4 linked regions of the Homo sapiens genome follow. The protein of the gene in region 4 interacts with the protein of the main gene of each other region in a pairwise test. Each region holds a gene or a part of one and is shown on either strand. Other genes may lie near its edges.

Region 1 (7,417 bases), on a different chromosome or scaffold from region 4:
TGGCTGACTCTCCTGGCCCATCACCGGATGCAATTTTCTCTATGCCTTAAAAATGGAAATGCTAAAAGCAGTCAAAGCACAATGTCCAGACAGAGGGCAGCTGTCAGGGAGACTGTGCAAAAGCAACTGACCAGGTCCTCTGAAAAGGGATCCTCCCTCCACCTGCTCGGAACTTCTGCTCTCCTCACCGTCCAGTCGGGCCTGAGCTCCCACCCGGCCCCCTCTGGCCAGCTGCGCTGTCCCCACCTACAAGGTTGCAGGCCCTGTGTGGGGCTGATGACGCCTGACAGCATCTTGGCTGAAAGGCCAGGTGGGAGAAAGAAAGGAGCATTATTCAGTCAGATCAGGGGGGCCCAAGAGCCTCCCTTAACGCCCAGTCTCGACAGCCAGATCCCACGGAGGGCTGGAGGGGCAGCCCCAGCCGCCCACTCCACTGGCCAGCCCCCAACTCAGAGGCAGCTAGCTTTGGTTTGCAAGAGGTCCTTTCTCTGGTCCTGCCATGGACAAGCCGGACTGGGGAGGGTTGTTGAGGTCCTCCTCCTGGAGGGGCATTCTCAAACATTGCTCTCATTGATTTTTCTCTATCTTCTTTTTCTACCTCACTTTTTTTTTTTTTTTTTTTTGCTTTTATTTTTGCTATTTTCTTCATTTTGCTTACCTTGGGTTTGATTTGCTCTTTTTGTTCTGGTTTCCGAGGGTGAAAGTTTAGGTGGTTTTTTTTGGAGAACTTCTTTCTCTTCCAAAAGAAGTTTTAGCTCTTTTTTTTCTAAAAGAAGCATTAGTGCAAAATTTCCCTCCAGGGCCCACTTCAGCTGCATCCTTTGACTTTGATGAATTGTGTTTGCATTTTCATTCAGTTGGAAATATTTTCTGATTTCCTTTTTGGTTTCTCCTTTGACCTATAAGTTGTTTAGAAATATGTTATTACTCAGTTTCTAAATATTTGATGATCTTTTAGATATATTTCTGTTATTGATTTCTAATTTAGCTCCATTGTAGTCCAAGCAAATAATCTGCATGATTTTAATCCGTATAAATTTACTGAGATTTGTTCTATGGCCCAGAATACAGTCTGCCTTGGAGGACATTATTGGTAAATAAAGGTGTGTTCCCCTTCTGTGAGGTGGAGTGTCCTACAAACATCAAGTTGGTCATGTTGACTGGTAATGTGATCCACGTCTTCATCCTTACAGACTTTTTGTCTATTTTTTATCAGTTCTCGAAAGAGGAGTGTTGAAATCTCTGTTATTGTGGATTTTCTTTTTCTCCTTTCAGTTCTATCAGATGTTGTTTGTTTTGCTTTGTGTATTTTGAAGCTTAATTGTTAGGTGCATACATATTTAGAACTGCTGAGTCCTCTTCATGAACTGATCAATTTATCATTTGGTAATGTCCCTCTTTTTAAATTTTTTTTCTTTCTTTCTAGTACAGATAGTGTTTTGCTGTTTTGCCCTGGCTGGTCTCAAACTCCTGGCCTCAAGCAATCCTCCCACCTCAGCCTCCCAAAGTGCTGGGATTGCAGATGAGAGCCACTACACCTGGCCAGTAATGCTCCTCTTTATTTCTGATTATAGTCTTTGCTTTAAACCTACTTTGATATTGACGTAGTCATGTCTGTGTTCTTTTAATTGGTGTTAGCATAGTATATCTCTCTCCATCTTTTTACTTTTATCTTATTTGTGTTTTTACATGTCTGGTGAGTTTCCCACTGACAGCATATACTTGGCTGTTTCTATTTTTATCCAATCTGACAACCTCTGTTTTTAATTGAGATGTTTTTGTTTGTTTTTGAGGCAGAGTCTCACTCACTCTGTCGCTCAGGCTGGAGTGCAGTGGCACCATCTCAGCTTACTGCAACCTCTGCCTCCCAGGTTCAAGCAATTCTCCTGCCTCAGCCTCCCAAGTAGCTGGGATTACAGGCACCCACCGCCATGCCCAGCTAATTTTTGTATTTTTTAGTAGAGAGGGAGTTTCACCATGTTGGCCAGGCTGGTCTGGAACTCCTGACTTCAAGTGATCCACCTTCCTCAGCCTTTCAAAGTGTTGGGATTACAGGTTAGGATTACAGGTGTGAGCCACCGTGCTCAGCCTGATTGAAGTGTTTAGATGACATAGTGTCATTATTGCTGTGGCTGGGTTTAAATATATGTCATCTTGCTATTTGTTTTCTATTTGTCTCATTGTTTTTTCCTTTCTCCTCTTCTGCAGTCTCTGTAACATGTGCTTTTATAAATAAATAATTCTGTATCATCACTTTTGTTGATTTATTAACTACAGTGCTTTGACTTTTGCTTTTTTCTTTGTCTTTTTTTAGTGACACTTTAGCGTCTTAGCATACACCTTTGACTTACTAGTCTACCTCCAAGAAATAGTAGGCCACTTCACATAGAGTAGAATAAATCTACAACAGTGAACTTCCATTGTCCCTCTCCTGGTCTATTTGTATTACTATTTTTTTTTAAATTTATTTGACACAGCGTCTTGCTCTATCACCCAGGCTTCAGTGCAGTAGCGTGATCACAGCTCACTGCAACCTCCACCTCCTGGGTTCAAGTGATTCTCCCACCTCAGCCTCCTGGGTGCAACCTCAGGTGTGCACCACCACACCCAGCTAATTTTTTGGTATTTTTTTTTTTTTAGAGATGAGGTCTCTCTACGTTGCCCAGCCAAGCCTGGTCTTGAACTCCTGGGCTCAAGCGATCCACTCGCCTCAGCCTCCCAAAGTGCTGGGATTACAGGCGTGAGCCGCGGTGCCCAGCCTGCACTACTATTATCATACAATTTACTTCTACATTTGCTATAAATTCCTTAATACATTGTTATTATTTTTGCTTTAGGTAATCAACTATCTTTTAACTTGATTCAAAAATAAGAAAAAAATTACCTTCTATTTCCTATTTCTGGTGTCATTTATTCCTTTGTGTAGATCCGTATTTCTGCCTGAAGAACTTCCTTTAACATAAAGGTCCCCAACCCCTGGGTCACAGACCGGTTAGGAACCACGCCACACAGCAGGAGGCGAGCGCTGGCGGGCGGGCAAGGGAAGTTTCATCCGTATTAATTCATCGTGGTCTGAGGCTGAAGACCGCGACATACTCTGGTTCTGACCTATGCGTTCCTTCCACGCCCCTTATCCCACCAGAGTGTGAGCTCCATGGGGTGGGAATATTCTGGAACGTCTGCTGGTTTTATTCTTTGCCTTCTCCCCAACTAGGACCTGGCACAGGAGGGTGCGCATTACCTCTCGGCAAACAGAACAACTAACTGGCCTAGTTTGCTGGGGACCGAAGGATTTCCTGGAACCGGAGCCCGCTTGCCCAGCAGGCATGGTGTATTCTGTACCTCAGGCCCGCAAAAATGTTTTAAAGAAAAAAATGAGCTTTAGGGTAGAAGAAAAGGTTTTATTTTTCTTTCTCACATTGGAAAAAATGAAAACTTTCGGACCCATGAAATTTTATTACATTTTGCCAAAAACAGAACCAATAACATAAGTATTCAAAGTTATGTAAAGATAATTATTTAATATGAACATTATGATGGTGAGAGGGACCACGGAGCAAGGGGCTGCCTTGCAGGCCTGCCTTCCAGCTTTGCTACAGGGACCAGAAGCGGGAGCTGAGCGCAGGGGAGGCAGGCGGAGGCCATGGGCAGCGAGGCGGGTGCGCCAAAGGGCGCCAGTTCCGGAGCTGCTGGGCCTGGGCTGCAGGAGGGCGGAGCTGGGGCCGCAAGGCTGGTGCCGGCCGACAAACGACGCGGCGCGGGCGAGTGGGCGGAGGCGGCTGCGGGGAAGGCTGGGCTGCCGCGGGACGCGGTGAAGATAGCCTGCGGAGTGTCCGGGCTGAACACGTGAGTCTGAGGGTCGCCAGGGAATCACTGCGTGGCTGCCTCTGTGTCGGAGATCCAGATGCCTGGACTGGCCTCGGGGTCCCAGCGCTTGCCCGGCGAGCCGGCGGTCCGGGGACGGGTCCGGGCCGAGGCCTGCGGTGAACTCGGCTCGGCGGGTGCCCAGGAGGCGGGTCCGGGGCGGGGCCTGCGGTGAACTCGGCTCGGCGGGTGCCCAGGAGGCGGGTCCGGGGCGGGGCCTGCGGTGAACTCGGCTCGGCGGGTGCCCAGGAGGCGGGTCCGGGGCGGGGCCTGCGGTGAACTCGGCTCGGCGGGTGCCCAGGAGGCGGGGCAGGGGCGGGGCCTGCAGTGAGCGCGGCTTGGTGAGTAGCCCAGGAGGCGGGTCCGGGGCGGGGCCTGCGGTGAGCTCGGCTCGGGGGGTTGCTCAGGAGGTGGGGCCGGGGCAGGCCTGGGGCGGGGCCTGCGGTGAGCTCGCGCTGGGCGGGCTGTTCCGGGGGCGGGACTGGGCTGGGCCTGCGGTGAGCATCAGGCGATGCGGCACGGGTGCTGCGGGACACACAGACACGCCTACGATTAGACTCAGGCAGGCACCTACCGGCGAGCGGCCGCGGGTGACTCCCAGGCGCGGCGGTACCTCACGGTGGTGAAGGTCACAGGTGAGGTCACCCTGATAGTCCCGCTCGCGCCGAGAGCCCTCCCCTCGACCTGGGACCGCAGTGTTTGGGGCGGGGCTCTCCGTGAGGGGGTTGGGAAGCTCGAAGCCGCAGGCCTGACTCTGGCCTTTGGCATCCTGGGGTTGGCCTGGGCAAATGTGTCGTGAGAGACGGATTTGTTGTTCTCGGGAAGGCGTAAGTTTAATTTAGTCCTCCAGGACGGAGACCGAGGGCCGAGTATCCCGGCAGGGGTAGGAGAGCCGTAATCCAACCCCCACCTCCCCACTGTAAACCTCTTTCCAGAGAGGGCATTCCCGTTCCAAACACCAGACCCAGCCGGGGAAATGCTTCTTCTTGTCTGGCCCAAGTGCCCTCCTGGGAGGGGCTCAAAATGCATTCCCCCCAAGCTGGGCACAGCTCATCCCTGCTGGGGAGCTTCTGCAGTGGCCGAGGACTCAGACAACCCTAACCAGGGCTCTGGAGGTCTTCTGGAAGAAGGAACCCCAAGTAGGGACACCCCAGGAGCAGAGAGGAGGGGAACAGCGAGAAGAGACCCAGCTTTTGGGCCCAGTCCTGCCATGGCCAGCCATCCGGCCCCCAGGGCCCTGCTTGGGATGGGGCTGCAGACCACCTCCCATGGGACCTCTGCACCAACCATCCCCTGGGTAAAATCCTTGTTTAGGCCTGGTATTTAAGGCCCCTCTGCCCATCCCTACTCCTTCTCTAGCACTGCCCCTCATCCTCCCCCCATCTCTCCTCCATCCAGCGCTACAGGCTGTTTTGAGCTTTTGCAGGTGCTGGTCTCTGATTGAAATGTCCTGATCTCTTCTCCCTTCTTGTCCCATCCCAAGTGTCTCCTCCTCCAGGAAACCTTCCCTGACACCCACTGAGTTAGGTGGCCCCTCTGCCCACCATCATCCCTGCCCAGGCCCCCATGGGTCCTTCAGGCCCAGTACTGACCACCTGTCTTTGCCACCTGCTGTGCAGGGTTGCAGCACTCCCAGTAGACCAGGAGCTCCGGGAGGCAGGGCCGGCCCCACGTCCTCTGCGCACCACCCTGAGTTGGATCCTCTGTGCGCCACCCCTGAGTTGGATCCAGGGCTAGCTGCTGTTGACCTCCCCACTCCCACGCTGCCCTCCTGCCTGCAGCCATGACGCCCCTGCTCACCCTGATCCTGGTGGTCCTCATGGGCTTACCTCTGGGTAAGATGGACAAAGGACAGAGGGATGGGCAGACCCACTTTGAGGGCAGATGGGCTGACAGTAGGGAAGGAGGCTAGAATTCCCAGCGACAACCCCTCCTTCTAGCCCCCTGCCCCGGGGAAGGTGACGGGCTGGGGGCCTGATGGGCTGGAGGAGGGGCCTCTCATGTTCTGTGACCCCCGTTCCCTTCCCGCCCATCTGCCAACCCCAGCCCAGGCCTTGGACTGCCACGTGTGTGCCTACAACGGAGACAACTGCTTCAACCCCATGCGCTGCCCGGCTATGGTTGCCTACTGCATGACCACGCGCACCTGTGAGTCTGGGGGCCCTGCGTGGCCCTGCCTGGGGAGCACGAAGGGGAGGTTCTGCCCTGCCCCTGAGCATGCGGGGGTCCTGAGGAAGGAGGCTCTCCTGTTCCCGGATCCTGTCTGGGAGCTCCAGGCTGAGGGGCCCTGCCCTGATGGCTGTGGATGCTGGGGTGGGGCCAGCTGGGTCTCCTGCCCCTCTTAGCGGAGCTGGCTCACCGCCCCGCCCCTCTGCAGACTACACCCCCACCAGGATGAAGGTCAGTAAGTCCTGCGTGCCCCGCTGCTTCGAGACTGTGTATGATGGCTACTCCAAGCACGCGTCCACCACCTCCTGCTGCCAGTACGACCTCTGCAACGGCACCGGCCTTGCCACCCCGGCCACCCTGGCCCTGGCCCCCATCCTCCTGGCCACCCTCTGGGGTCTCCTCTAAAGCCCCCGAGGCAGACCCACTCAAGAACAAAGCTCTCGAGACACACTGCTACACCCTCGCACCCAGCTCACCCTGCCTCACCCTCCACACTCCCTGCGACCTCCTCAGCCATGCCCAGGGTCAGGACTGTGGGCAAGAAGACACCCGACCTCCCCCAACCACCACACGACCTCACTTCGAGGCCTTGACCTTTCGATGCTGTGTGGGATCCCAAAAGTGTCCGGCTTTGATGGGCTGATCAGCCCCTCGCCTGTCCAGGGCTATTTATGGGGAGGGGCCCAGTCAGGCAGGGAGCACTGAGCAGATGGGAGCTGTGGCCAAGCCCACCTTCTGGGAAGCCCTAGGAGAGGCCCCTGCCTCAGTCTGCCCCTGGTGTGCTGGGGCAGGGGGAAGACAAGGAATGCCCGCAGGTGGGGTGGTGGGGAGACTCTTAGGAGGAAAGGCTCCTCCAGGCCTAGTCACGCTTCCTACTGAGGCCAGGAGCTGCCAGGACCGGTACGGGATCAGGGCTGTGGGAGGAGGGCCTTTGGCACCGGCCCCTGTGCTAGGAAGTCTGCCAGGCCCGAGTTGGAGCCACCCCCTGCAGGGGAGGGGGCGGCTCTGCCTCAGCAGGCCCCAGGGCCCCCGAAGTCACAGAAGCTTTTTCGGGTCCAGCAAGGGGTGTGTGTCCTCTCAGTCAAACCCCTTGACGTTTCCCACCCCCTCACGGGGAGGGCACCAGGCCTGAAGCTGGCAGGAGCTAGGGCCATGCTATATTTGGTGGGTCCTGGACGCTGACCCGGCCAGCGCTATTCTGGGCAGGGAGGGAAAGGGGCAGAGCAGGTGGTCCCCCGAGTCCTGGTCCCCAACCACAGCAGGACCCAGCCGAGCAAGGCAAAAGACGCAGGACTGGGGGATGCGCGCACAGGCTGGGGGTTGGGAGCAGCCTGGGGCCGGCGCGGGCCTGGGCGTGGGAAGGCGGAGCATGCCACCCTCTCGT
Region 2 (7,395 bases), on a different chromosome or scaffold from region 4:
AAGTCCTTTAGACACCAGGGGAATTGGATTTGGGACTGCTCTTATCTAGGGATTTCTTTTTTTTTTTTTTTCTTTTTTTTGAGATGGAGTTTCGCTCTTGTTGCCCAGGCTGGAGTGCAATGGTGCAATCTCGGCTCACTGCAACCGCTGCCTTCTGGGTTCAAGCTATTCTCCTGATTCTCCCACCTCAGCCTTCCTGAGTAGCTGAGATATATTTGAGATATAAGTCACATACCATAAAAATTCACCCATTTTAAGTGTACAGTTCAGTGTTTTGAATATACCCATAGGGTTGTGCAGCCCTTACCACAATCTAAGTTTAGAACATTTTCATCATCCCCCAAAAAACCCTGTACTCATTAGCAGTCAGTCCTCATCCCTGGCCCTCCTCAGCCCTAGGTAATAACTAACCTACTTTCTGGCTGTCTGGATCTGAAGGACTTTTGACACACTTGGAAGGTTATACTTTTAGCCAACTTACCTTTACTTTTTCTGCATTATGCGCAGGGAAGGTGTGATGAGAAGGAAGAGTGACTTGGGCTTTGCCCTTAGGTTGTTTACAGGCCACAGTGATAAGGCCTCGTAGTTAACTAGTCGTCAACAGTTTATTTTTTTAATTTTTATTTTTTACTCTTTTTGAGACAGTCTCAGTCAGGTCACTCAGGCTGGAGTGCAATGGTATGATCTTGGCTCATAACCTCTGCCTCCCAGGTTCAAGCAATTCTCCTGCTTCAGCCTCCCAAGTAGTTGGAATTACAGGTGCCCACCACCATGCCCGGCTAATTTTTTGTATTTTTAGTAGAGACAGGGTTTTGCTATGTTGGCCAGGCTGGTCTCGAACTTCTGACCTCAGGTGATCCACCCGCCTCGGCCTCCCAAAGTGCTGGGATTACAGGCATGAGCCACTGCGCCCGGCCGTAGTCAACAGTTTAGAGTCAACAGCCCCAGCTGTCACTCACAAGTGTCATTCTGGGTGTGTTACATGCTCTCTCTGAGCCTCAGTGTCCTCATCTCTCAAATGAGATAATCATACTCACTTCATAAGGCTGCTGTCAGGATTAAATGACAAAATTTAATGGGAAGAATCTACCCAGGGCCTGGCTCAAGGTAAGGGATCATAAATGTCATTATTTGTCGGGCCGGGTGCGGTGGCTCATGGTTGTAATCCCAGCACTTTGGTAGGCCAAGGCGGGTGGATCCCTTGAGGTCAGGAGTTTGAGATCAGCCTGGCCAACATGCTGAAACTCCATCTCTACTGAAAATACAAAAACTAGCTGGGCATGGTGGTGCATGCCTGTAATCCCAGCTACTCTGGAGGCTGAGGCAGGAGAATCACTTGAGCCCAGGAGATGGAGGTTGCAGTGGTGGGGGCAGATGAACATGGTGGGTTTGACAGGGAGGCAGGCAGGTGACTTGGATGCAGGAGAGCAAGTGCGTCAAGCGCTCATCCATGGGTCCTTGCCATGTGACTGGGCAGGGTGGCCTGAGCTGAGAGAACTTGGCTGGGGTAGTCTTCGTGAAGGAGATGCTGCACCCAGGCCTCAAATGAGGAAGGATTTTGATTAGGGGAGATGGGCATGGGCCTTCAGGAAGAGGAGCCAGTGTGAGACTAGACTAGTAATCAGATTTGTTTTCCAGGCCAGTCTGGGAGGTAGATGGGAAGGCTGTGATGCCTCTAAGTGGCCTTGACTGTCATACCAAGGAGTTTGGAGTTTATTTAGGCCAAAGGCAAGAGAGGTCTGGAAGTTCTGGGGTATTTGTTGCCCTCAGTATTTGGGGTAGTACTGAAGAGGGGTGTGCAAGGTGAATGACTGTGGGTCTGTTGTCACTAGACCCAGTGAGGCCCAGAGCCCTCCCCTCCTTTTTATTTATTTATTTATTTTTGAGACAGAGTCTCGCTTTGTCACCCAGGCTGGAGTGCAGTGGTGTGATCTTGCCTCACTGGAACCCCTGCTTTCCAGGTTCATGTGATTCTCTTGCCTCAGCCTCTCAAGTAGCTGGGATTACAGGCATGTGCCACCACATCTGGCTAGTTTTTGTATTTTTAGTAGAGATGGGGTTTTGCCATGTTGGCCAAGCTAGTCTGGAACTCCCGACCTCAGGTGATCTGCCTGACTTGGCCACCCAAAGTGCTGGGATTTTGTGGCATAAGCCACAGTGCCCGGCCCATTTTATTTTTGATTGAGTCATGTTGGCAAGAAATGGGAGGCTGAGGGAGAGTTGGGGAAGGGCCAGGGGAGGGAGGCCCATTCCCATTTTATGATCTCAGTGGAAAAGGCTGCTGTGAGTTGATTCTGCTGCCAGGAGAGCCACAGAGATGGGCCCCATGAGTCACTGCTCAGTCCTGCAAGCTCAGCCCACAAAGCCTGCTGTGGTCAGCCACCCCTGGCTGGCTCCAGGCCCAGCTCCCCAATATTCCCCACTAGGCCTCAGTGTGTCCTCATTTCTATCTGTACCTTTGCCATCCTGGGCCATGCAACCTGTAGCTCTCGGCCTCTTCTGTCTCCTTTCAGGCTGAGTCTCTGAATCTGTCTCCATTTGTGACTCTGGTTTCCATGGGATACATAGATGTGGAGCCTCAGGAGGGCAGGGGTAGTGTGATCAGTGTCAGGCGCCCCAAAGCATTTATTCTGTGCCAGGCCCTGTGCTGGATGCTGAAAGTACGGAAGTGGATAACATACAGTCTCTGTTTCCATGAAGCCTACAATGCACATTCTCTGTGGAGTGGAGAAACCAGGGCCCAGCCCTGCCTCTATCTCAGTATGGCTGTACCTCCCCTGAATCTGCCTGCTGTGCCCAGGGTGCCAGGTCAGCTATAGCCTGTGGCTTGAGGCTCTTCTTTGCCTCTGGCATTCACAGGGGTATGTGTGCCCGCCAGCAGGTCCCCCCCGGCTCTTAGGGCTCCTGGGGGACTTGGCTGGTGGGTGCTGGTGGGCAGCAGAAGGGGAGGGAGGGAGCAGAAGGCAGTGACTCAGTGGGGGTGGCCCTGGGACAGAACTGGGGAGGAAGCCAAGGTTGGATGATGCTTCCTGAAGCCAGGAGGGTGGGAAGAGAGGTCTGGCTGGGAGTTAGGGATGGAGCAGGACAACTCCAAGGCTCCCCTCTGGCAGCCAGACCTGCTCATGAAGAAGGCTCCTCGGTAGCTGCCTGAAAGTCTGGACTCTGGGGGCTGGGCTGGGCTGGGTGGGGAGATTGCTGTTGGTCCCACTGTGCCTGTTGTAATCCCCAGGTTCATGAAAGAGGTGCCTGCCTTAGAGCCAGGGAAGCCGTTGCACCCGGTGCCCCCTCTCCCCAGGGACCATGGGCCTGGGCACACTGTGGGGCTCAGGGTCTTCTCCTGGTCGCAGAGCTGACCTTCCCACAATCTTCCCACAAATTCTGGGGAGTGTCGGGCCAGGCCCACATGCCCTAAAGGGACCTCAAATCGCACAGCTACCCACTTGGGTAGCTTTCATCAGTTCAGGATTCCCTGACTGCGGGTGAAATGAGGGGGCAGGGCACCAACACAGCCCGAGTGCTGGCAGCGGGTGAACGTATAACACAGGGAGTCTTCCCCAGTCCTCACGGCAACCCCAGGAGAAAAATGACTTTCCATTTTTACAGGTGAGGAGGGTGAGGCTCAAAGAGCAGAGTTCCTGGAGCGCCCCCAGCAGGTAAGTGGAGAAGCCAGGCCTGGGCTGGGGGCTCTGGCTCCAGAACCCCACCTCAGCACCAGCCTCCTGCACCGGACTTTGTGGAGAAGGGGGTAAGGGGGTGCCAGGGATGGCAAAGGGGTAGAGGATCTGGTGGACTCTGGCAGGCCTGGGTCAGCTCCACCCATTGGTCTCACTCCCACCCGGATGGCAGCCCCATCCCACGTGGGATCATGCGACCTGTCTCTGGGTGCCCGCGGCGAGGCAGCACCCCGCTTCCCTACACAGAAGGCCTTCCCCTCCCGTCGGCTCATTCAGCCGCGGAAGCCCCTGGGAGACCCCGCCCCGCCCCGTCCCGCGGTGCCCCCCGCGCACTCACCCTCGCTCACCCACGCGGCCTTCCTGGCGGGAGAGCGCTTCCGGCGTCCTCGCCAGGCCCGGGGAGTGGGCACGGTGGAGCTGCCGACCGTTGGTCGCTGCCCCAACCCACGCACTGCGACGCCGCGGGTGAGGCGCGCGGTCTGCGGGGCCCGGGGGTGCGGCGGGGCGGGGCTGGCGGGCTGTCCGGGCCCACGGAGAGGACGGCGGCGGGCGGGGGTTGCTGCAGGGCCCGCACCTTGTCTTCCGCGCCGGCAGGGCTGTGCCCCGTCGAGACCTGCTCGGGCTGTGGCTCCGTCCTCCGGCCTCCAGGGGGCGGCGCGGCGCTGCGCGGCGCCCCGGCGGCACTGCCCTCCCTTCCCAGCGGCCAGGAGGCGGTGTCCCGTGACGCCGCGCGGCCGCGCTGTAGTGGCCGTCGAGGCCGCCGTCTGTTCGAAGGCTGTCCGACTTCACGGTTCCCCGCGGCTCGGCCCGGGGGCGTGAGTGTCGCCAGCGGGCGACGGGGGGGCGCGCGGTAGGCCCTGCAACAAGGCCAGGGCCTGGGGGGGCCGGCAGGAGAGCGAACCCGAGGCATCGTGGTGCCATGGCGGGGCCGCCCCCACGGGCATGGGCCTGCAGAGCGTGGCCGTGAGGACGCTGAGGGTGGGCGCGCACGGAGCAGAGGCCCACGGGCGTCCGACGGGGGACCTGGACAGAGGGACACCCTTAACGTTATTCCCTCTTCCCAGGCCTGAATTGCAGTTCCTGTGCCCTGGCACTAAGACTGGCACCTCCTGCGGCCCATGCCCTTCGCCTGCATTGCCCACTGAGTCCCACTCGACTGTCTTCAGCGCGGTTCACACTGAGACCCAGCCCTCTCCCGCTGGCCCCGAGCAGGCCCACCTTTAGGAGGGCGTGATGGAAAGGCCCCTGGAGAATGGGGATGAGTCCCCAGACTCTCAGGGCCATGCCACCGACTGGAGATTTGCTGTGTGCAGTTTCAGGGATGCCTGGGAAGAGGAGGAACCTGCTTCCCAGATGCACGTTAAGGACCCAGGTCCTCCAAGACCACCAGCCGGGGCCACCCAGGATGAGGAGCTACAGGGCAGCCCCTTGTCCAGGAAATTCCAGTTACCCCCAGCTGCAGATGAGTCGGGGGATGCCCAGAGGGGCACAGTAGAAAGCTCCTCAGTCCTGTCAGAAGGGCCAGGCCCCTCTGGAGTGGAGAGTCTCCTATGCCCCATGTCCTCCCACCTCAGCTTGGCACAGGGTGAGAGTGACACCCCAGGGGTAGGGTTGGTAGGGGACCCAGGTCCAAGCAGGGCGATGCCATCTGGCTTGAGCCCTGGGGCATTGGACAGCGACCCTGTGGGCCTTGGAGACCCTTTATCAGAAATATCAAAGCTGCTGGAGGCAGGTAAGGAAGGCTGGGCTAGGGAAGTCTGGGAAGGGAATGGGGATGCCTGGAGAGATGAGTGTCAAGACTTTGGAGGTCTCTGACCCTACTCAGGCTGAAGCCCGGGTCCAAGTAGGGGTCTCTGGATAGGTGGTCCAAGGCAGACCCAAGTCATTTCCCTTCCCAAGCCCCCAGTGGATCCGGCCTCCCTAAGCCTGCTGACTGCCTCCTGGCCCAAGACCTCTGTTGGGAGCTGCTGGCCAGTGGTATGGCCACCTTGCCAGGTAGCCAGGCGGGCCTAGAGGCGGTGGAGGTGGAGTGGCCCAATACGGCAGGAGTTCACTGCTTCCTCCCCACAGGGACTCGGGATGTCCAAGGCCGGGCAGTGCTGCTTCTGTGTGCCCACAGCCCAGCCTGGCTTCAGTCTGAGTGCAGCAGCCAGGAACTCATCCGCCTCCTGCTGTACCTGCGAAGCATCCCCAGGTTTGAGGGAGGGGGTTGGGAGACTGAGCCTGAGCCAGCTGTGAGGACTGGGAGTCAGGTACTGAACTGAAGCTCACCCCTTTAGGCCCGAAGTACAGGCACTGGGACTGACAGTGCTAGTTGATGCCCGAATTTGTGCTCCAAGTTCTTCCCTCTTCTCTGGGCTCAGCCAACTACAAGTGAGTACAGGATTGTAGCTCCCCTCATTCCTTTTCTTTTCTTTTTTTTTTTTTTTGAGACGGAGTCTTGCCTTTGTCGCCCAGGCTGGAGTGCAGTGGCGCAATCTTGGCTCACTGCAAACTCTATCTCCCCGATTCAAGTGATCCTCCTGCCTCAGCCTCCCAATTAGCTGAGATTACAGGCACCTGCCACCATGCCCAGCTGATTTTTGTATTTTTTAGTAGAGAGGGGGTTTCACCATGTGTTGCCCAGGCTGATCTCGAACTCCTGAACTCAGGTGATCCTCCCGCCTCGCCTCCCAGAGTGCCGCAATTACAGGCGTGAGCCACCATGCCCTTTTCTGTAGAGTTGGGGATAGTGCTGAGCTCAGGTTCCTTGCAGGAAGCAGCCCCAGGGGCCGTGTACCAGGTGCTGCTAGTGGGAAGCACGCTGCTGAAGGAAGTGCCTTCCGGGCTGCAGGTACTAAGCCCAGTTGGCTAGGGGTAGAGGTGGGGTGCCTCCCCCCAGGCCTGGGTCACAACACCTTCTTCTCCTGTAGCTGGAGCAGTTGCCTTCTCAGAGCCTGCTGACCCACATCCCAACGGCGGGGCTGCCCACTTCGCTAGGAGGAGGCCTGCCTTACTGCCACCAGGCCTGGCTGGATTTCCGAAGGGTCAGTACACTGGGTGGGGCATGGGGGCAGTCATATAGGCAACTTGGGATCATGGAGGAGCCTCTCTGGGGCTGGCTTGAACCAGACAAAGCTGGCTGCAGTGGCCTGGAACCCAGGAAGCCCAGGACCAACACTGCATGCTGCTCCGGTCATGCCTGCCCCTGCTTACAGCGGCTGGAAGCTCTACTACAGAACTGCCAGGCAGCTTGTGCCCTGCTCCAGGGGGCCATCGAAAGTGTGAAGGCTGTGCCCCAGCCCATGGAGCCTGGGGTGAGTGTCCCCTCCCAGTCCCTCCATGAATGCTCCCTGTCTCCCTCCTTCTCTCCCATGGCCACCTCCACAGCTTATTGCCCTCAATCACAGGAGGTCGGTCAGCTGCTACAGCAGACAGAGGTCCTGATGCAGCAGGTGCTAGACTCGCCATGGCTGGCATGGCTACAATGCCAGGGGGGCCGGGAGCTGACATGGCTGAAGCAAGAGGTCCCAGAGGTGACCCTGAGCCCAGACTACAGGTGAGTGCAAGCCCGGCCCCCAGATCTTGCCCCAGCCCACCATATTCTATGCCAGGACTCATCTGGCTAGCTCAGAACCTGGTAGGACTGTGGTGCCAGGACAGGGTGGAGTGGTGCAAGGCAGGGGGTCTAAGATGGTATACCCTACACCAGGACGGCAATGGACAAGGCTGACGAGCTATA
Region 3 (6,752 bases), on a different chromosome or scaffold from region 4:
TTGCCCCCTGCCATCTCGCACTCAGCCCTGGGTGCCTGTGAAGCCTGGCCCCACTGCCTGCCGGGGGTTCCTGCAGCACCCCCCTACTCCAGGCTCCCCATCTCCCTGAAGCTTCCAGGGTAGCAGCTGGTGGGACACTGATCTGTGAGCTCTGGAATGTCTGCTTAGAATTCTGAGAGGCAGGAACTGCTCTGTCTTTGTAACTACTCAAGGCCAACTGTCACATGAAGGAATGAATAAAGAGTTTTTACTGACTTGTGCACTGATGGACTTTAAGATGCTCACTGCTTTAAAAGTTCCCGTTGTATGTGACTTCAGACGAAAGGATGTCGTATTCCGGAGCCAGATTGTCCTTGATCCATTCTGTATGTTGAAGGACACAAAAGGGACTGTGCAGGTGGAGACAGCCTCCATGAGGGGCGCAGGGACTGTTCTGGCGGAGGGCGGACCCCACAGCTGGGGACTTGGTTCTTTTAGACCAAACAGTCCATCTCGCAGCATCACTCAAAACTCACCAAAAAATTTTAAAAAATAGTTTATTTTTTAAAACCATTAAGGCAAAACTGTACCCTGAAATTAACTCTGTACATTCATCAGTCTTACAGTAGGACATCCCAAACACAGAAGTTCCCATATATTCAGGATATAAATCAATACATGTGGTCAGTTCAGTCTCCTAATAGGAAAACGAAGACCCAAGATTTTTTTTTAAAATTAAGGTTATTTTATAGCCATTTTCTAATTGCCTGGAACCAATCAGTTCATGTGACTAGAAAAATTACTTTCGCTCTTCTCTGCACATCCTTGATTCCGGAGGTCCTGGATGCCCGCTCCCCCCACCAGGAGAGAGGTATGAAGTTGGAGAGAGGATGCTGGGGCCTGTGTGGCAGTTCCTACTTTGGAACTGCACCTTTTTAGCACAAATAAGAAGCTGTAAGCCCCAAAATACTGAGAGTATAAGGCACTCACTAGTAGAGCACATGTGGAGAGTCTGGGCCCAGTCCTTGCTCTGGGATCTGCCTCATTCTCGCGTGTGTTTCTGTCAACCCTCTCTCTTAGGGTTTTAGCCTAATGGCATTATGAATCCCAGAGGGTGTAACCAATATGCACCAAGAAGTTTTGCCAAGTTATTGGAAACAAGGTATGGGGAGACTCACGGGGTCTGTGGTTTCTGCTTTCTGCTTTGGGTTGGGCCACCTGGAGGATGCCAGAGAACCGGCACGTGCAAAGAATTTCCATCAGGACATTTCCAATTGCCAGCGTTCTTTGGTAATAACCCATAGGTAACAGTTCCCTGAAGAGCAGACAGCTATTTACTAAACAAGAATAGTGAAGGGTCTTTAGCGAAACACTGTTGTATGAAATCGGTGGCCTCTAATACGGAGTCTAAGGCCTCGCTGGTGGAAGTGACTAGAGATAGCCTCTCTTGTGCTCTGTGCATATACAGTGTGGTAAAGGGAACAGATTTCCACATTGAAAGTAAATTCTGCATGGCTCAGGAGAAATGAAGAGCTGTGTGTGTGTGTGTGTGTGTGTGTGTGTGCACGCACACGTGTACGCAGTGTATTTTAGATGTTTGATTTCAGCTTCCTTTGTGTTTCCAATAGGGTCAAGAGCCAGGCTTTTAAGAATATGAGTCAATTAACACTGATTTCAAAAGAATCCAAATGTTTCTTATTAAATGAGTGATTGTAAGTTAGTAAAATATTTGTATTAGGATATTTTTCAAAAAGTCAAATCACAGTATTTAAGATATAGCTATTAACGTAGTTCTTTTTACCACACAATGTAGAAAAAAGTGATATTTAACATGAACACTGTAACTTTACCAAAAAGAGTACTACATGGTCTTCATCTTTTGTGAGGTACATGAGAAAAGGAACTGACTGTGCCTTAAAAAAAGTGAAGTTGCCAAAAGTGAGTGATTTTATTGTGAAATGATCGGCCAGTCACTCGTCTCCGGGGCCTGAAGGCTGACCCTCTCTGACTTGAGGCACAGCCAAGGCCTGGGGGTCCGGGGAAGGTGCCCGACTGTGTCCCAGGGCTGCGGCATGCCCCCCCACGCCCGGTCACCACTTTTCCTAGGAGCCAGGCTGCGTGGACTGGGGGCCTGTTTGTGCACCAGTTTGCACGGCACTTTATCAATTCATTAAATGAATGGATTTTGGATGCTGGATGTGTGGGCAGAAGAGGGGCAAGAGAAGAGGTGGCAGGTAGACTCCCTCCTCCTCACATTTGACCCAACTAGCAAACTTAAAAAAAATAAAATAAAATAAAAGCTGACCCCCCTCCCCAGGTCTTAGTTTGCTATCTCTGATGTAAAAATCAATTATTTTTTCTCTCTTTTTTTTTTTTTTTTTTCAAATAATCCATCTAACAGCCATGAGACCACTCAAGTATTTGAGGTCATCAGCTGCGTCCATCAAGACATGATATTGAACATGGACACCATCTGGTCTGTTGGTCTGTTTTTGTTGGCAAAGGACTCCAAAAGGATGCAGTTGTATGTGTTTCAGCTGAACCACATACCATAGCTCCTCTCCCCTCACAAAAGGGTTTCTCTGGGGGGAGAAAAGTAACTGATTATACCTCTCATGTCTCAAACTGAAATTCTGAGAAGCAAATGGTCAGTTGAGGGCCCCATTCCAGATCTGCCGGGACGTCCTCAGATGTCCAGAGCTGGCAAAAGGTGGAGCAGGCAGCAGCCTTGGGCACCAGCCTGTCTCTTTCTGTTCTGATAAGGCCACACACATGGCTTTTTGTGATAAGCTTCCAGCCCATGCCACTGAAATAACGTTTAAGAACCTGCTGCATTTCACAGAAATAGCGTAATGGAAATCATTATGTAATTAAACAAAGCATGAAGCTCATTATCTTTTTCTTTTTAACAAAACCTTCAATTTCACATTTTAGTGTACACTGTGGTTTCCAGAGAAATATATGGATCTCCTATATTCTGAGTCAGACCAAATTTATTGCCTTTATTCTTACCCTAGTCTATGGGGTCAATAACCGTTTTCCTGAATGCTGTCAAAATGGTGCCTGAAAATATCTAAATCCCAGCAAAAACCTAGGCCTCAACTTTGGAACCCAGTCATAGATCTTTCTAGGCAGAAGGCCTCTCAGGGGAGTACATGCCCTGGGCAAAGGCCATGGACTCGGAAGCAGGAAGGTCACGGGATGATTTAATGGCATCGAATAATCCTTTGGTGAGATGGCCTTTGTTGCCCTCAGCACAGTCGAGGCAGGTTAATCATTTATTTGCCACAACCCTTCCTTGCTCTGTAAAGCTGCAGCACAACTGGGTGGTCCGTATAGCCTTTTCTGCCACAGATGTTTGTGGACATTTCACTTCCAGACTGTGACGTCTGAAGATGGGCTTGAATGACAGCAGCCATCATCGCTGCCATTAGGGAGGTGCACACAGCCCCCTTTGCTCGATGCAAATATTTGGTTGGTAAGAAATTCCAGTGCAGCTAAACAAGTCAGCTTGGACTGAGTTAAGAAAAGCTGGGCCACTTTTAACATGAGAAGAGCAGATACTTCCCCATGCTTGGCAATGCCAATGCCGTAAAAATGGGAAGTGTTGAGACAAACCTCCTGTGGACGAGAGGTTCCCGTGGACATTTTTAACAATCATGAGCCTTCAGGTGGTGGCATCAGTCTTCATGGGTGACTTCTATGGACAGCATAATTTTCTTGCCTCTCCTGAATCTATACTACTTTTCTGAATGTGAAAGAAGGTCTAAAAAGTAATCCCTCGGGATCCCTGCATCAGGCCAACCATGCTAACTGCAGAGGGTGAGGCTGGCAGTCCAGGAGATGGGAGCTGAGGACAAGGCTGCAGGCCCCTGGGTCACCTATCCTTGCACTCACCAGGTGCAAGAGTCTAGAAACAACAGGGAGGCTGCAGGAGGTGGAGAAAGTGCACCGTGCCTGGGGACCAGCGGCTAGCAACACCCAGCAGGCCCTACATCTGGAGGCTGGTGTTTTCATTTTAAAATGGAGGCTGATTTGCTGTTACCCCCTCAAACAGCTGAGGAGACCACAGGAACCTGCTTTGAAAGCTGCCCAGAGCCATGGCATCCATAGGTGGTGAGCTGTGGGCATGTTCTCCTGGTGGCATCTGCATTTTGAAAGGCCACACTGTTGAAGAGGTACCAGCTGTTGAAGGTGGCCAGCTTTCCCCAGGCCCCAGGAAGCCCCCCACCAAAGGCCAGGCTGTCGGTCAAGCCAGTCTTAGCTGGGTGCATTGGGCTTGCTGTGTTGAAGCAATGAATCTATTTTAAAACTGGAGTTCAGTGAGACATTTCAAAGACAGGTGTGGCCACTGGATCAGGACCAAAAAACCCTCCATCATGTATGCGGCTGGTAAGTAGCAGATGTGCGCAGAGATACAGTGGTTTGAAAATGGGAGTTTGAGGTGGGAAGTGCTTGGAACCAAACACAGAGAGGCCCAGGTGCAAGTTCAGAGGAGACAGACCTTAGGAAGTCGCGGTTTCATCAGGGCTTGCTTTGGTGCATCTGTTTCCATCCGCATCTGGTAGGGTCTCTCTGAGGAAGTGGCTTCCTCGTGGCCAGCAGGAAGAGGTGAAGAGGAGAGGGGGTGCTGGGGGCGGTGCGGGGAGGGGGGTTTGTCACTGCAGGCCGGGACCATCGGCCGCTTCTCCTAAGCCCAAGACGTGCCCAATGTCAGTTTCACCAAATTGGGGTAGCACCTTTTGCACGTATCTTCAAGGCTCCCTTTACACAACCGAAGTTCCTTCCAGACGTCATACGAGATGCTGCTCCCCTGTGTGTGGGCAGGCTCAGGTGTGTGCACTCAAGGAGTCTCCATCCCACCTGCCCTAACTACAGAGGCCACAGGCTGTGCGCCTCAGCTCTAGCATGGCCTTTTGCAGGGCCTGCTGAGGTATTTGTTACATGGTCCATTGCGGGGAAGTGGTGGCTAAGTTGTTGACTTCTCACGGTATAGCAAATCTCTCATTTGTACCTTGAGCTCTTGCTCGGCTCTGGGAGGCTGCCCTGTCCCTGGAACCTCCAGACAACGCTCCAGGAAGGCTGTTTCCCTGGGGGTCTAAAATGGCCCAGTGTAAGAAACGTATCAGCGCAGCAGAAGGGTGCCTTGTCTGCTCTCTAAATGCGAAACAAAACAAAACACAGCTCTTTAAAACAGGGACAGCTCTCCTGGGCATCCTTGAATGCTGAGTTCTGGGTTTCTGCCCCACTTCACGTCCATTATGTTCGTATAGCAAACACACCCGTTAGGAAGATGCTTTATACTCTTCTCATCGGAGCTGGAGGAAGGGTCAAGCGGAAACAGGCAAGCGAGGTGGGAAGAAAGGCACCAGCAGCCGTCAGCCCGTGCTCCCAGTCCCGCTCCTGCCGCTGTAACTGGAAGCATCTTGTTTTGACAATTCATCCAAACGGCCTTAGGCCCTGCACAGTTCTCCGGTCTCTGGAAGTGTGGTGGGGACGGAATCCAACATGTGGGACACCCAGCTGGAAGTGCCAGGAGGTGGGAGAGGAGGGATGCGCCGCCAGGCTCCCCTGGACAATGGAGAGGCCTGCGTCTGCTCCCGAGCCACAGCCAGCTGGCACACAAGAGGCACGTCTGGGAGGAGTCCCTCGCCGTGCCTTCACCCTGGTCAGCACGGTAGACCAAGGCTGTTAGGTCTCTGAGGACTTTGGCACTTTTTGCTATTAAAAGTTGAGAAAATGAAAAACCGTGTTTAAACAATGACTTGTTGAAGAGTGGGTAAATTTGGCGACTTCCTACATTCGCTGCCAGAGGGAGCGGGTGCCACACATGTGCTCCGACACTCCTGGAATCTGTCCTGACATCTCTTTTGTTCTTTTGGCTGATGTCTGTTGAAACCCAGCAAGCAAGAAATGCACTCTGTTAATAGTTCCCATTTGAACTGGGGCATAATCAGCCTATATTTGAGTATTGATGCCCTGAGAAATCTATGATTAGGTGACCCAAAATATTCCAGCATTGAGTGGCAATTAGTGGTTTTGTTATTTAAAGAAATAGGAATGCCTGATTTCCTTCCCTATCAACACAAGAGACCAATGTCGAGTGACTTTCAGCCTGAGGTCACGGGTGTCTCCATTCTGGCTTCACCAGAGATGTCCCTGGAAGTCTTGCTGGGCCTTAAGGAAACCAAAATGCTCACCATCGCTGCTGAGTGTCCCGGGAGCTAACATCGAACTTGCCAGTCAGCTCACTGTTACTGCTGAAAGCCTGAGACGGGGAGCTATTTTAAACAGGTTTTATGAAAATGTAAACAGAACAATGACTTCTCTGAAAACCATGAGGCTCACTTTCCTGGACCACATCTCCTTGAATGGCACAGGGTACATCAGAGCGAGCAGCTGCAGGGTCGCTGGGGACAACACAGGCTTGGCATTGGGCTCCAGCCCCTGGATCTTGTTGACACAGGGGCTTCTCATTTTAGGAAATAATACTGAAACGGATGCACCATGACAGACACTCAAAGGCTAGCTTCTTTCTGAATTAGGATGGCCACTTGGCTGGTGGCATATATGGAAACACTTTTATTTGCTTTTGGTTCCTAAGACACTTGGGCAGACTGCCCGCCGCTGCTGCTGCCATTGCTGGCCAACAGCCCCTTTGATTGCATCTTTTTTTTTTTTTTTTGCCGGGGTGGGAGAGGGTGGAATCTAACTCTGTCACCCAGGCTGGAATGCAGTGGTGAGATCACAGCTCACTGCAGCCTCGACCTCCT
Region 4 (7,022 bases):
TAGAACTCTTGGGCTCAAGAGATCCTCCTGCCTTGGCCTTCCAGGTAACCGGGACTATAGGCTTGCCACTATGCCCGGCCAGAACGTCATTTTAAACAGATTTTCTTGAGCAGCTACTTAATACTAGTTAGCCATTCCTAAACCTGTAGGTCTTGACTAATGTGAGGGCATATTTGAGACAACCCAAACTCACATCTTAAGTTATTAATTTTAATGTGTCAGCTAACAACTGGGAAGCTACTTCTTTGGCAATATGAGAAACAAGAGTTTTAAAGACCCAAGCAAGAATACATCTCCAGTGTTTTCACCCTGAGGGATATGAGTTAGTTTGCTGAGCAGCCATTTGGCACAGCTTCCATGAGTTAGGTTGTGAGCCGCCTTCGGCTCAGCAGTCAGTATGGAGCAGAAGCCACAGGAGGTGAGCCGCTGGCCTGCTGCCACCGAGGAGGACACTGAGACATGAGTGCTTTCCAAGTTGTGCAGAATTTTGGCATGTGAGGAGGATGGTTGTGACATATGGATTTAATTTTCTTGAAGTTATTGTTTCTTTATACTCTAATTGGTTAAAAGATAAGCAGGTGAGGTTATCAAAAGGCAGTAGATTCCGACAGCTTTTGAAAATGGGAAGAGTGAAATCCCTGTGCTGTCTTCATAGAGCAGTGTGTGGAGTAGGAAGTACCTCGTTACTGTGCTCACCTAGGGCAAAGGTCGGATTAAACAGCTTTCTCATCTGCCATGCAGCGGGGAGGACCAGTTGGAGAGGTTGCTTTTGGCTCTCACACCTTAGTGTAAAAATCACTTTGTGAAAAATGCAGCTGTCACCTCCTTCCTCCAAGATTCTGATTCTGCCTCAGTTAGGATCCAGGAATCTGCATTTTAACATGCACACCAGGAATTCTGATGCCCAAGGTTGAGCAAAACTGACTTAGGGCGTACAGACAGAGGATGCCTTAGTGTGGGGTCTTAGTTGGGTCTCATTGCTTGGGGCAGTTCCAGGAGGAATAGGCTAAAAGGGACTTGAACTGAATTCCCCACCTTGTATTTTTTTTGAGGAGAAGTGAGGTTAGATCAATCAGGTGATGGGGGCTAGTAATGGGGAGATCTCTAAGGAGAGGGGAACCAACCCTTTTGGCTAGGAGATGATGGGTAAGAGTCCATGCTTTAGGGTCATTCTTCCTCAACTGAAGGGTGCATCTTGCTATACTGCTAATATTTCAGTTTATTCATTGCTGTCTCCCCTCTAAGCTGTTGAGCTATCAGGTAAAAACAGATGCATGAGTGGATGGGGCCTTTATTGTAGAAGATGCCACACTTTGCACTGTCCAGTGTAGAAGCCACTGGCCAATTCATTTAAATTGACAATAAAATCGAGTTCCTCAGTTGCATTAGCTGCATTTAAATGCTCAGTAGACACATGTGGCCAGTGGCTACCTTATGAGACAGTGCAAATACGGAACAATTCCACCATCACAGACACTTCCATGACATAGCACTGCTCTAGAGAGTAGAGAGGAATTCAGTGGAAGGCTGTCCAGGGAGTAGGGAGTCCAGTTGAGAATGGAGAGCAGAGGGCTCCCCTTACAGGGTTGGAAATGCAGATGTGTCATGCAGGAGATCCAAGGTCCAAGTCTTTGCCCTTGCCCTTCCCTTCCTCCACCCAAACTTCTACCTCTTCCAGGCTTACACCACTGCTAATCCAGCATTAACCACAAACTATATTTCAGTTTTCCTGTAGGACTTAATTCTTTTTCAGAAAATGTGCAAAAACATTTTCTGCATAACAAAGCAACTTCATATTTCAACTCCGTAATCACAGAACTGTTACTCTAGGCATATTTTGCAGTGAATGCATTTGTGTAATATTTTCTCCATTTCTGTTTATAAGATTGTTATTTTGCAGGTCAAGTTGGGGGTGAGAAAGCATAGAGCTGTTATAGTTTGTTTATTAGTAAGCAGTTTCCCTTCATTTCCTTTTCTTCACATACTTTGGCTTTTAAACTAACCAAAACAGAAGGGTCTTAAGAGTTTGGGAGTCAGAAGGGGGATGGGAGTTCCTACTATATTTTACTGCCATAAGTAAAAAATAATTAACAAAAATCAACTTTTTTTAATAGGTGGGGAAGAAAACATGACAGAAACAGATGCCTTCTATAAAAGGTAAAGCTGTGCTCTTTTCTAATAAAGGTCTCTTCCTTTGATGGTCATGATCAGCCTACAGAAATCAAAGCAAGAATGGGTCCTGGGAGCTAGGAAGTAAAACTGAGTAGGCCAAGTTTTAGCCTTTGGGGAGCTCATTTGTAGATAGGCAGGTTGTGCTGCCCCTGGTTGTCGAGGGACCCGGAGTGATGTTCAGAATGCATATTAATTGGCATGGCATGAGCCTAGAGCTAGAACTTGGTTCTGAGCCTCGTGGTTATTCCTGGTTGCTGGATCCTGGGGGCCAGGGGAAAGACATCAAGGCAGAGGGTTAGGGATGTGTCAGGATGGCACATGGCTGCTCTTTACCAATTGGCAGAGAGATATTTCAGGACTTTCCTTATTAGCATGGCCTTTCCTGGAGCACACCCATGGAACATCAGCCTGGCAAGGAGGAAGCTCAGATCTCTATCTACATGTTGACCTAGAACTTGGAGGGGCTCATTATTTAATATGACTTGAAGTGATTGTTTTTCAACTTTTCATTAACAGAGAAATGTTTGATCCGGCAGAAAAGTACAAAATGGACCACAGGAGGAGAGGAATTGCTTTAATCTTCAATCATGAGAGGTTCTTTTGGCACTTAACACTGCCAGAAAGGCGGGGCACCTGCGCAGATAGAGACAATCTTACCCGCAGGTAGTAGTTTTATCTACCTATCAAGATGAGGCAGTTAAGTGATAAAATTACTTTTGGCCAGGTGTGGTGGTTCATGCTGGTAATCCCAGCACTTTGGGAAGCCAAGGTGGGAGGATCACTTAAGGCAAGGAGTTTGAGACAAGTCTGGGCAACAGAGTGAGACCTGGTCTCTACAAAAAATAAAAATCAATTAGCTGGGCATGGTGGCGGTAGTCCCAGCTACTCTGGAGGCTGAAGGGGGAGGATTGCTTGATCCCAGGAGTTCAAGGCTGCACGGAGCTGTGATCATGCCACTGCACTCCAGGCTGGGCAACAGAGTGAGACCTTGTCTCTAAAATAAAAAATAAAATAATTTTTTTCCATGTTTCCAAATGAAAAGTTAAAAAAAATTAAAAATTAAAAAAATTCCAGACTTCTAGATGTAGGGAAAAGTTACTTATCATAACTTGTCAACACTAATGAGGTAACAACAGATCAAGAGTGTTGGAGCATGGGCCTTGCTTTGATGCAGCCTCCCTTAAGAACTTGCCTGAGTTGGCCGGGCATGGTGGCTCACTCCTGTAATCCCGGCACTTTGGGAGGCTGAGGCGGGTGGATCATAAGGTCAGGAGATTGAGACCATCCTGGCTAACATGGTGAAACCCTGTCTCTCCTAAAAAATACAAAAAATTAGCCGGGCGTGGTGGTGGGAGCCTGTAGTCCCAGCTACTCGGGAGGCTGAGGCAGGAGAATGGCATGAAGCCAGGAGGCGGAGCTTGCAGTGAGCCAAGATCAAGCCACTGCACTCCAGCCTGGGCGACAGAGTGAGCCTCTGTCTCAAAAAAAAAAAAAAAAAAAAAACTTGCCTGAGTTATTTTCCTTACTCTGTTCTATTAAATGTTGACAGGCTTTTGCATTTGTACTAACATTTGCATAGTAGACAACAACACTCTAAATTGAATCGGCTGTCATTATGATTAAATCCTTTCCGACCATGGTGAATGAAGGGAAAACCACCATTGTTATATTTCATTTCTTTTCTCCTAAAGAAAGCAAATTTATGTGTCGTTAAAATGTGTATAGATTCTTCCAAAGTAAGGGTATTTGACAACTTTGAAAAGTTTATAGGCTAACATTTCATTTAATATACCACTAGGTTTTCAGATCTAGGATTTGAAGTGAAATGCTTTAATGATCTTAAAGCAGAAGAACTACTGCTCAAAATTCATGAGGGTAGGTAGTTTTGCTATCATATAGTTCATCTTCCTCTAATGAAACCGAGTCCTTTATCCTATCTGTAAAGACAGGTACAAGTAATTACTTGTGTGACAAAAAAAGTATTAATTTAGCACAGGTTACAGGTTTTGGGTATGCTGCTGTGTTTCCGTTACCCAGCACATTTAGAGACCCTTGCAAATAATTATGCCTCTAAAGTTTATATTTAGCATACCACTAGTTACAGTCTCTTGTAGAAATGAATGAAATGACCCCTTCAATTGGCAGTAAAAGCCTAAAATGCAAGTACTACAGGTGCTGGGCAGTCAACAGGCTCATTTTCTCATTGACTCCTTTCATGCCTCATTTTCTCACTGGTTTCCAAATAGTGTTGGTTTACATACATTACCTCCTTTAATTCTCACAGCGTCAATAGGGGGTAGGTATTCTAATTATAACAACCTATATTATAATCATCGCTGCATGCCAACCATTATATTTGCATAATTACTTTAAACTTTCTTCAGAGCTCTTCTTTAAACTGCACATCATTCTAACTTTGGCTGCTTTTACCAGCTTTTCTACTTTGCTCAGAAGCTTTGGAGGACATCAGTCTCATGGCACCGCACCTGGCTTTGAGTACTCTTTTGGAAGCTCTAAGTGCTATAATCTTTTTTTTTTTTTTTTGAGATGGAGTCTCGCTGTCCGCCCCAGGCTGGAGTGCAGTGGTGTGATCTCAGCTCACTGCAGCCTCCACCTCCTGGGTTCAAGCAATTCTCCTGCCTCAGCTTCCCAGGTAGCTCGCCCCCATGCCCAGCTAATTTTTGTATTTTTAGTAGAGATGGGGTTTCACCGTGTTGGCCAGGCTGGTCTTGAACACTGGCCTCAAGTGATCCACCTGCCTCGGCCTCCCAAAATGCTGGGATTCCAGGCGTGAGCCACTGCGCCTGGCCCTAAGTGCTGTATTCCTATAGTGAAAGTGCAGCAATGCGTGGGGAGCTGTTGAGCAGCAGTTTCTGGGTCTTTCCACTCTGCTCTAAGGTCTCTGCTGATTCAAGGAAATTTTTAGTTTATTGCCAAAATAACTTGGATCTTAAGTGAGATTCCCTATCGTAATCCCTTTATGTTTTCCACATCATTCTGTGTTTTAGAAAGGCTAATGAAATTTGGTCAAACTCTATTACTCTGAACTTTAATAAATTTGGATTTTTTTAAAAAAATAAGATACAGTACGGTATATTGTTTGATTAAAGACTAAGTTGTTTCATCACAGATATTTTACACTTATTAAAGAGTAGGCCGGGCATGGTGGCTCATGCCTGTAATCCCAGCACTTTGGGAGGCTGAGGCGAGGTGGATCACCTGAGGTCAGGAGTTCGAGACTAGCCTGGCTACATGGCAAAACCCCGTCTCTACTAAAAATACAAAAATTAGCTGGATATGGTTTCAAATCTGTAATCCCAGCTACTTGGGAGGCTGAGGCAGGAGAATCGCTTGAACCCGGGAGGTGGAGGTTGCAGTGAGCCAAGATCGCGCCACTGCACTCCAGCCCTGGGCACCAAGAGTGAAACTCTGTCTCAAAAAAACAAAAAAGACAAAACCACAAATTTTCCTCCTCCCCAATCATGTGGATGTAACTTTATTCTTGTGTTAATAAACTGAATTTTTATGTGTAGATAACAAGCATCATATTTTCATTTCTATATTCTCTTTTGGGTCCTTTATAGTGTCAACTGTTAGCCACGCAGATGCCGATTGCTTTGTGTGTGTCTTCCTGAGCCATGGCGAAGGCAATCACATTTATGCATATGATGCTAAAATCGAAATTCAGACATTAACTGGCTTGTTCAAAGGAGACAAGTGTCACAGCCTGGTTGGAAAACCCAAGATATTTATCATTCAGGTAAGACTGAGTACATTATCATCTTAATTATAAAGTCTGTCATTCTGAACATGTGATAAAGGTCTAAAAGCCAGTTTTGAAAGTAACTTTCTCCAGTAATTGGACAGGCCGTTTTTGAATTCTGGCCAATCATAGTTGCACTTTGAGCTGTTAGTAATAATTCTTTGACACTCTCATTGTCTATATTACAAAATAACAGCATTTGGATTGAGATTTGAAGTGACTCACAAAGTAACCAATGTGCTACTCCCTGTCCGAGCCTGATACCAAGGAGAGCCATTGGAAAGCGTACCTGCTGATTGAAGAGTGCCGCACAAGGCAACCTCATCAGACTAGGTTTGCTTCTTTGGGAGGTGGAGAGCATATAAACCAGTGGAAAGAATGGAAAAATAAAGCCTTCTAGTCTTATCCTGTCTCATCCCTTTCACATTGCCCCTTAAACCAAGATTGTTTCCCCGCTGCCAAATTGGTTTTAGGGATAAAAGTATTTTTTACAGGCGTGATGGCTCACACCTGTAATCCCAGCACTTTGGGAGGCCGAGGCAGGCAGATCACCTGAGGAGTTCAAGACCAGCCTGGCAAACATGGTGAAACCCTGTCTCTACTAAAAATACAAAAATTAGCTGGGCATGGTGGCAGGTGCCTGTAATCCCAGCCATTCGGGAAGCTGAGGCATGAGAATTGCTTGAACCTGGGAGGCAGAGGCTGTAGTTAGCCGAGAGCATACCACTGCACTCCAGCCTGGGCGTCAGAGCGAGACTCTGTCTAAAAAAAAAAAAAAATTTTTTTTTTTGCATGAATATTACTTGGCACATCATTAACGATTTTTTTTTTTTTTTTGAGATGGAGTCTCGCTCTGTCCCCCAGGCTGGAGTGCAATGGTGCAATCTCGGCTCACTGCAACCTCCGCCCCCAGGTTCAATTATTCTCCCACTTCAGCCTCCCGAGTAGCTGGGATTACAGGCACCTGCCATCATGGCTGGCTAATTTTTGTATTTTCATAGAGATGGGGTTTCACCATGTTGGCTAGTGTGGTCTTGAACTCCTGACCTCAGGTGATCTGCCCGCCTTGGCCTCCCAGAGTGTTGGG

What was found.
Region 1: the proteins of CASP6 (region 4) and LYNX1 interact in binary tests that used the Homo sapiens proteins (3 or more experiments, as listed by UniProt).
Region 2: the proteins of CASP6 (region 4) and PLEKHG4 interact in binary tests that used the Homo sapiens proteins (3 or more experiments, as listed by UniProt).
Region 3: the proteins of CASP6 (region 4) and PPARA interact in binary tests that used the Homo sapiens proteins (3 or more experiments, as listed by UniProt).

Annotation. Positions count from the first base shown.
Region 1 is NC_000008.11:142,774,188-142,781,604, reverse strand, and holds the start of LYNX1 (ly-6/neurotoxin-like protein 1 precursor), read left to right. Parts: upstream 1-4,402; 5' UTR 4,403-4,499; intron 4,500-4,582; exon of another isoform or gene 4,583-4,691; intron 4,692-5,073; exon of another isoform or gene 5,074-5,161; intron 5,162-5,483; 5' UTR 5,484-5,647; coding exon 5,648-5,699; intron 5,700-5,910; coding exon 5,911-6,012; intron 6,013-6,241; coding exon 6,242-6,438; 3' UTR 6,439-7,417. Other genes in the region: LYNX1-SLURP2 protein precursor, read left to right, coding at 5,648-5,699, 5,911-6,012. UniProt on the Homo sapiens protein: Acts in different tissues through interaction to nicotinic acetylcholine receptors (nAChRs).
Region 2 is NC_000016.10:67,275,138-67,282,532, forward strand, and holds the start of PLEKHG4 (puratrophin-1), read left to right. Parts: upstream 1-4,394; 5' UTR 4,395-4,489; exon of another isoform or gene 4,490-4,738; 5' UTR 4,739-4,907; coding exon 4,908-5,406; exon of another isoform or gene 5,407-5,573; coding exon 5,574-5,669; intron 5,670-5,744; coding exon 5,745-5,868; intron 5,869-5,953; coding exon 5,954-6,047; intron 6,048-6,429; coding exon 6,430-6,507; intron 6,508-6,586; coding exon 6,587-6,700; intron 6,701-6,871; coding exon 6,872-6,970; intron 6,971-7,063; coding exon 7,064-7,212; intron 7,213-7,365; coding exon 7,366-7,395. UniProt on the Homo sapiens protein: Possible role in intracellular signaling and cytoskeleton dynamics at the Golgi.
Region 3 is NC_000022.11:46,237,523-46,244,274, reverse strand, and holds the end of PPARA (peroxisome proliferator-activated receptor alpha), read right to left. Parts: 3' UTR 520-6,752; downstream 1-519. UniProt on the Homo sapiens protein: Ligand-activated transcription factor. Key regulator of lipid metabolism. Activated by the endogenous ligand 1-palmitoyl-2-oleoyl-sn-glycerol-3-phosphocholine (16:0/18:1-GPC). Activated by oleylethanolamide, a naturally occurring lipid that regulates satiety.
Region 4 is NC_000004.12:109,693,435-109,700,456, reverse strand, and holds part of CASP6 (caspase-6 isoform alpha precursor), read left to right. Parts: intron 1-2,114; coding exon 2,115-2,157; intron 2,158-2,688; coding exon 2,689-2,835; intron 2,836-3,970; coding exon 3,971-4,047; intron 4,048-5,756; coding exon 5,757-5,932; intron 5,933-7,022.